Linked DNA regions of Homo sapiens: region 1 is linked to region 2. The links come from fine-mapping of genetic effects on gene expression. A gene starts in region 2. The other region holds a variant in brackets. All regions are shown on one strand. Distances are between the middles of the regions. Region 1 has its middle 130 kb from the start of LMNTD1. Region 2 holds the start of LMNTD1 (lamin tail domain containing 1).

The links.
Region 1: its variant is fine-mapped to the expression of LMNTD1 in testis (GTEx, PIP above 0.99).

Annotation. Positions count from the first base shown.
Region 1 is chr12:25,685,622-25,688,541 of GRCh38, forward strand. No RefSeq gene overlaps it. Among named protein-coding and RNA genes, the nearest start is that of LMNTD1, 130 kb to the left of the region's middle. The variant T/C (reference allele first, on the strand shown) is at 1,592.
Region 2 is chr12:25,552,052-25,554,971 of GRCh38, forward strand. It overlaps LMNTD1 (lamin tail domain containing 1), which reads right to left and starts at 1,232. Exons shown (of 10, transcript NM_001145728.2): 1 at 1,018-1,232; 2 at 820-938. The coding sequence starts at 908.

The DNA.
Region 1 (2,920 bases), 130 kb after region 2:
TTCCAACAACGCAAAAACCACAATTACTTTTGCATGCACCTTAATTCCTCTACACAAGCCAACTGGATGCAGGCTGTTAATCTCTCTAGACTTGCATCATGGACTTTGGTGGCTGCCCATTTGCTGGAGGCAGCTACAACCTTGAATCTTGGTGCTTTCTGCCTCCCTGGTGGATCCATCCTATCAGCCGTAGAATTGGCACAGGTATTCTTGGGCCAGGCCTATATTACTAAGGGGTGAATATCAGATTAACAACACTGCCCTCTGCTCTGACTTGCTAAGAATAAATATTTGTTGTGTCTCTGATAGATCCCAAACCATACCATTAACATCTAATGCACAAGAATGCTTCACTCTACATCAAAACTACACTATCGATAATCTGTGTAATGAACTTTCCTTTAATGTATTGAATGAACTTTAAAAACGTGTTAAGATCACATAGATGTGGTACCTGAGTGTTAGTGACAATCTTTGCAAATAATCAGTTTTTAGTAAATTATCTCTCAATTTTAGCACTGAAAGTCCTGCAAACTGAGATGGGTGGTCAGCCTAGGAAACGAGTCAATCTCTCTCATTGGTACTGATCTGTAAAGTAACGAAAGACTCAATTATTACTATGTATAAAATTATAACCTGATAATATTTTGTTAACTAGTCTCTTTTTGCCCATTTACACACCATAACTACACAGTATTTCCAGCTAAATGGGCTCTGAGCGGCCAGCCGGCCAGCACTGCGGGCCCCAGGCAGTGAGGGGCTTAGCACCTGGGCCAGCAGCTGCGGAAGGGGGCACCGGCTCCCTGAGCACTGCTGGCCTGCCTGCGCCATGCTCGAATTCTCGCCGGGCCTCAGCCGCCTCCCTGCGGGTCAGGGCTCGGGGATCTGCAGCCTGCCATGCCTGAGCCCCCCACTCCCCGCAGTGGGCTCCTGCAAGGCCCGAGCCTCCCTGATGGGCGCTGTCCCCTGCTCCGCTGGCCAGGTCCCATCGACTGCCCAAGGGCTAAGGAGTGCAGGTGCGTGGTGCAGGACTGGCGGGCAGCTCTGCCCGCAGCCCTGGCAGGCGACTTACTAGGCCAAGCCAGCTGGGCTCCTGAGTCAGGTGGGGACTTGGAGAACTTTTATGTCTAGCCAGAGGATTGTATATGCACCAATCAGCACTCTGTGTCTAGCTCAGGGTTTGTGGATGCACCAATCAGCACTCTGTATCTAGCTAATCTGGTGGGGACTCGGAGAAGTTTTATGTCTAGCTAAAGGTTTGTAAATGCACCAATCAGCACCCTGTGTCTACCTGAAGGTTTGTGGATGCACCAATCAGCACTCTGTATCTAGCTAATCTGGTGGGGACTTGGAGAACTTTTAGACCTAGCTAAAGGATTGTAAATACACCAATCAGCACCCTGTGTCTAGCTCAAGGTTTTTAAACGCACCAATCAGCACTCTGTGTCTAGCTCAAGGTTTGTAAATGCACCAATCAGCACTCTGTGTCTAGCTCAAGGTTTGTAAATGCACCAATCAGCACTCTGTGTCTAGCTCAAGCTTTGTAAATGCACCAATCAGTGCTCTGTGTCTAGCTAATCTGGTGGGGACT[T/C]GGAGAACTTTTATGTCTAGCTCAGGGATTGTAAATGCACCAATCAGCACCCTGTCAAAATGGACCAATCAGCTCTCTGTAAAATGGACCAGTCAGCAGGATGGGGGTGGGGTCAGATAAGGGAATAAAAGCAGGCTGCTTGAGCCAGCAGCAGCTCATTTGGGTCCCCTTGTCACTGTGGGTGATTTGTTTTTTTGCTCTTTGCAATAAATCTTGCTGCTGTTCTGTCTTTGGGTTAGCACCGTGTTTATGAGCTGTAACGCTCACCGAGAAGATCTGCAGTTTTACTCCTGAGGCCAGCGAGACCACGAACCCACTGGGAGGAATGAACAACTCTAGATGCACTGCCTGAAGAGCTGTGACACTCACCATGAAGGTCCCTGCAGCTTCACTCCTGAAGCCAGCGAGACCATGAACCCACCAGAAGGAAGAAGCTCCGAACACGTCCGAACATCAGAAGGAACAAATTCCGGACACACCATTTTTAAGAACTGTAACACACACCACGAGGGTCTGCGGCTTCATTCTTGAAGTCAGTGAGACCAAGAACCCACCAATTTCGGACACACTGGGATTACAGGCATGAGCCATTGTGCCCAGCCATGTTTCCTCTTTTGTATAGCAAGTACCTACCTGTTAGAATTGTAAGTTTTTATAAGCTTCTGCATGAAAGGCACCTGCCATGCTACCTCAAAAGATCATTGTGAAAATCTCACTCCAGTGGCTCTAGATTAACGGAACAAGACTAAAACTAAAAGCAGGAAGCCAATGTGTCGTGCTATGATTTGAGGAGGGTACATACATAAAATCCTTGACGCCCTTGCCTGTCCTTTCACAGTTCCTTTCCTTTGAGACTCAACATTTTTGTCACCTTAAATGGTTATCAGATGATCCCTTAGCACGCATTACTTCAAAGATAGTGGGAGAAAAAAATAACTGGGTAGAAAGACAACAGGAACACGGTTTGCTTTGGTTCCCTACTCAGAGACCCATAAGGCATATTAGCATAGTGAAGTCTCCCCTTGAGGAATAGATGGGTGAAAAGGTCACGGGGTGGAAAGGATAGGCTAGAGGCATTAAAGGTACACTTCACACCCTCTGCTCACTTAGCAAATGAGAAGAGGCAAGAGGGTTAGAGAGCTGATTGTTAAATTCCTGAGTCGGGGGGGTCGGGGGCTTCTGAATTTATACCCAGTCTTGTTTCGCAGACTAGATGTGTTCCGAAAAGCGAGCCTTCATACACGTTTATTAAGCACATGTTCCCAGCAGTTTTCATTATAAGAACAGAGATGGAATTCCTGGGAGAAGAGCTAGGCCTGCAATGTATCA
Region 2 (2,920 bases):
GAACAATAAACATAGGACTTGTAGGTCCAAAGTAACAATAGCTTTAAATTATGTATACTCAATAAGTCAATTTTAAAGAAAACATTGGAAAACCAATGGTAATGCTTTAGTTGATGAATGATTTATATTAAATGTAAAAATAGGGATTATAATTTTATATAACATTCTTACGGACATTTCCAAAACCAATATTCTGGTAATTTTTTTGTCCCCAGTTCTGTAAAATAGTTCTAGAAAGAAACTATTTCTGTAAATTGACTTAACATATTAAATGGGAACTTTGGAGGCCAGGCGCGGTGGCTCACGCTTGTAATCCCAGCACTTTGGGAGGCCGACGCGGGCAGATCACGAGGTCAGGAGATCAAGACCACGGTGAAACCTCGTCTCTACTAAAAATACAAAAAATTAGCCGGGCGTGGTGGCGGGCGCCTGTAGTCCTAGCTACTCCGAGAGGCTGAGGCAAGAGAATGGCGTGAAACCGGGAGGCGGAGCTTACAGTGAGCCAAGATCGCGCCACTGCACTCTGTCTGAAAAAAAAAAAAAAAAAAAACGGAACTTTGGCTGGAATCTCAGCTAGGTCTTATACTATGGAGATCTGTCCAGGTGGATTTTTATACTTCTCAAGGACTAGAACCTTCTAAAACAGTAGTTGTGGAAGTAGTTGTATGCTACAGTCCATTATTTCTAGAAAATTTGTGAGATATATTCTAGTTCTAACTGGTTCATAAGAGTATTGAAACAAAAGAGGTCAAGCATGCCATCATTCCTCCTCTATAACTCAGCTCTAACTCTGCTTCCATCGCATCTATGCATGCTCACTGTTTTTGTTTCTCATTCTTATCTTCCTGCTCATGGACTTTATTCTGCATTGCCTTCGAAGCTTCCTGAATGTCTTGTGTATCTTTCATCTTGGCTAGAAAAGAAGTCTCTTTTCTTTCCTAGGAAAGCAGATCATGACATCAGATGACGAATATGGCTGAGGTTCAAGGCAGATTTTTCTTTTCAAAGTGACCTCACCTGTTAATCCAACTACCTTCAAGCATCAGCTAGGTTTAATAATTTCTTTACCAAACTAGTACCAGAACCACAATTCTCATGAGGATATGTAAGTACCAACATAGCCAATCCTGATCTTGGCTAAGGATGTCGGACAAACCATGGTGCAGGTGTGTAGCATTCACTGGAAGCAGCTTGAGAGGGCAGTAACTTGGCAAAGAGACCTTTATGACTACAGTTGTTGCTTCTGGCCAACACTGCCTCTTAGAACTATGAGGTAATGTCTCCATAGTAACCAAGTTCCAGTTTCTGAACAATTCCTATGTTGATGCTGTACCTTCTTTGCAGTTTGCAGACATTAAATAAAGTAATTTGCTCTTAGGAAAGCCATATCTTCCACTAGACTTTGCCACCAAAATTATTGATATCTTGTTTTGTATTTCTAAGAGTCAAGGCCAGTATGTACATACTGGGGAAATTAATCACAACTCTTTTCTTCTTTTTTTTCTTTCTCTCTCTCTGGACAAATACTTTGAGCACATGGAAACAGCTAGGCAGCAAGAATAGAAACCATAAAACTTCAATGCAAAAAGAAGTCTATTGGTAGAAATCATAAAATCAAAGCCAGAACACCTAAATTCTTCTCCTAGTTATGCCAGCAGTATGATTTAGAAGAAATCACTTAATTCAGTTTCTCCTCTGTGTAAAACACTCACACTTAATGTTTCATGATAATGATAGTATGGCAATAAAATTAATAACTATGAAAGTACATGATTATATACAGTAATAAGATATATAAATGATGATTACTGGATGAGTAAGCTTATTAAAAATAGTTAATAAGATTCTACTATTTCTTAAAAACTGGCTAGGTACCATGAATAAACAATACCTGCTTTCAGAAATAATACTAAAATATCTTCTAATATAGATTTGAAAATGATTTTTAAAGACAATAAAGTAACTGTCTTAAAAAGCCAAAAAGAAAAAGTCAAGACGTGTAACACGTAATAAGGTAAGTTAAAAGGAAGTAAACGTTTGACCGTATTTCCTCCCTCTCAGAGATGAAGCACAATTCCTTATGAACATTATGGGCCAATTATGTAAATATAGCATCAGAAGGTTTATAAATTTTTACTTACGCTTAGTAAAGAATTAAAAATGGGCTTGTCATTTCTTGTCACTCTCCCAGTCTCCCTACCTGTACCAGTCTGGATGGCTTTCTAGCTGTTAAAAATTTCTCTACTTGAACTGCATATATTAGCATAAAGTCGTTATGACCTCATTGGTTTTATCAGAGAGCCTGCTCATATTTTCCAACATATTTTGGAGAAATAAAATTCTGTCAGCTGAGAAAAACTTTTGAAGGCTTTGAAGTTGTGAGTGTTTCAATACTCATTCCCCATAGTAGACATTTTTCTTATTTCCTTTTCTTAAATTACTGTATATATGCAATGAAAACCAATTTCCTCTTTTGTTGTTGCTTAAACTAATTTAGTGGTTTTCAACAGGGGCCAAAGTGAACCATAGAGAGCATTTTGTAAATGTAAGAGGATGTTGATAGTAGTCATTAAAGATTCGGGTCGGGTATTAGTGGCATTTGGTAGACAGAACCCAGAGATGCTAGACTTTCCACAATGTGGCAGATAATCCTACTTAGTAAATAGTGTTCCCACATGACACGTGCCTTTCTAGGCATTCATGCAGGTGAAAAATAGATTACAATTATCTGGCCAGGCACAGTGGTTCCCACCTGTAATCCCAGCACTTTGGGAGGCCAAAGGGAGTGAATTACTTGAGGTCAGGAGTTCAAGACCAGTCTGGCCAACATGATGAAACCCCGTCTCTACTAAAAAAATACAAAAATCAGCTGGGTGTGGTGGCGGGTGCCTGTAATCCCAGCTACTCTGGAGGCTAAGGC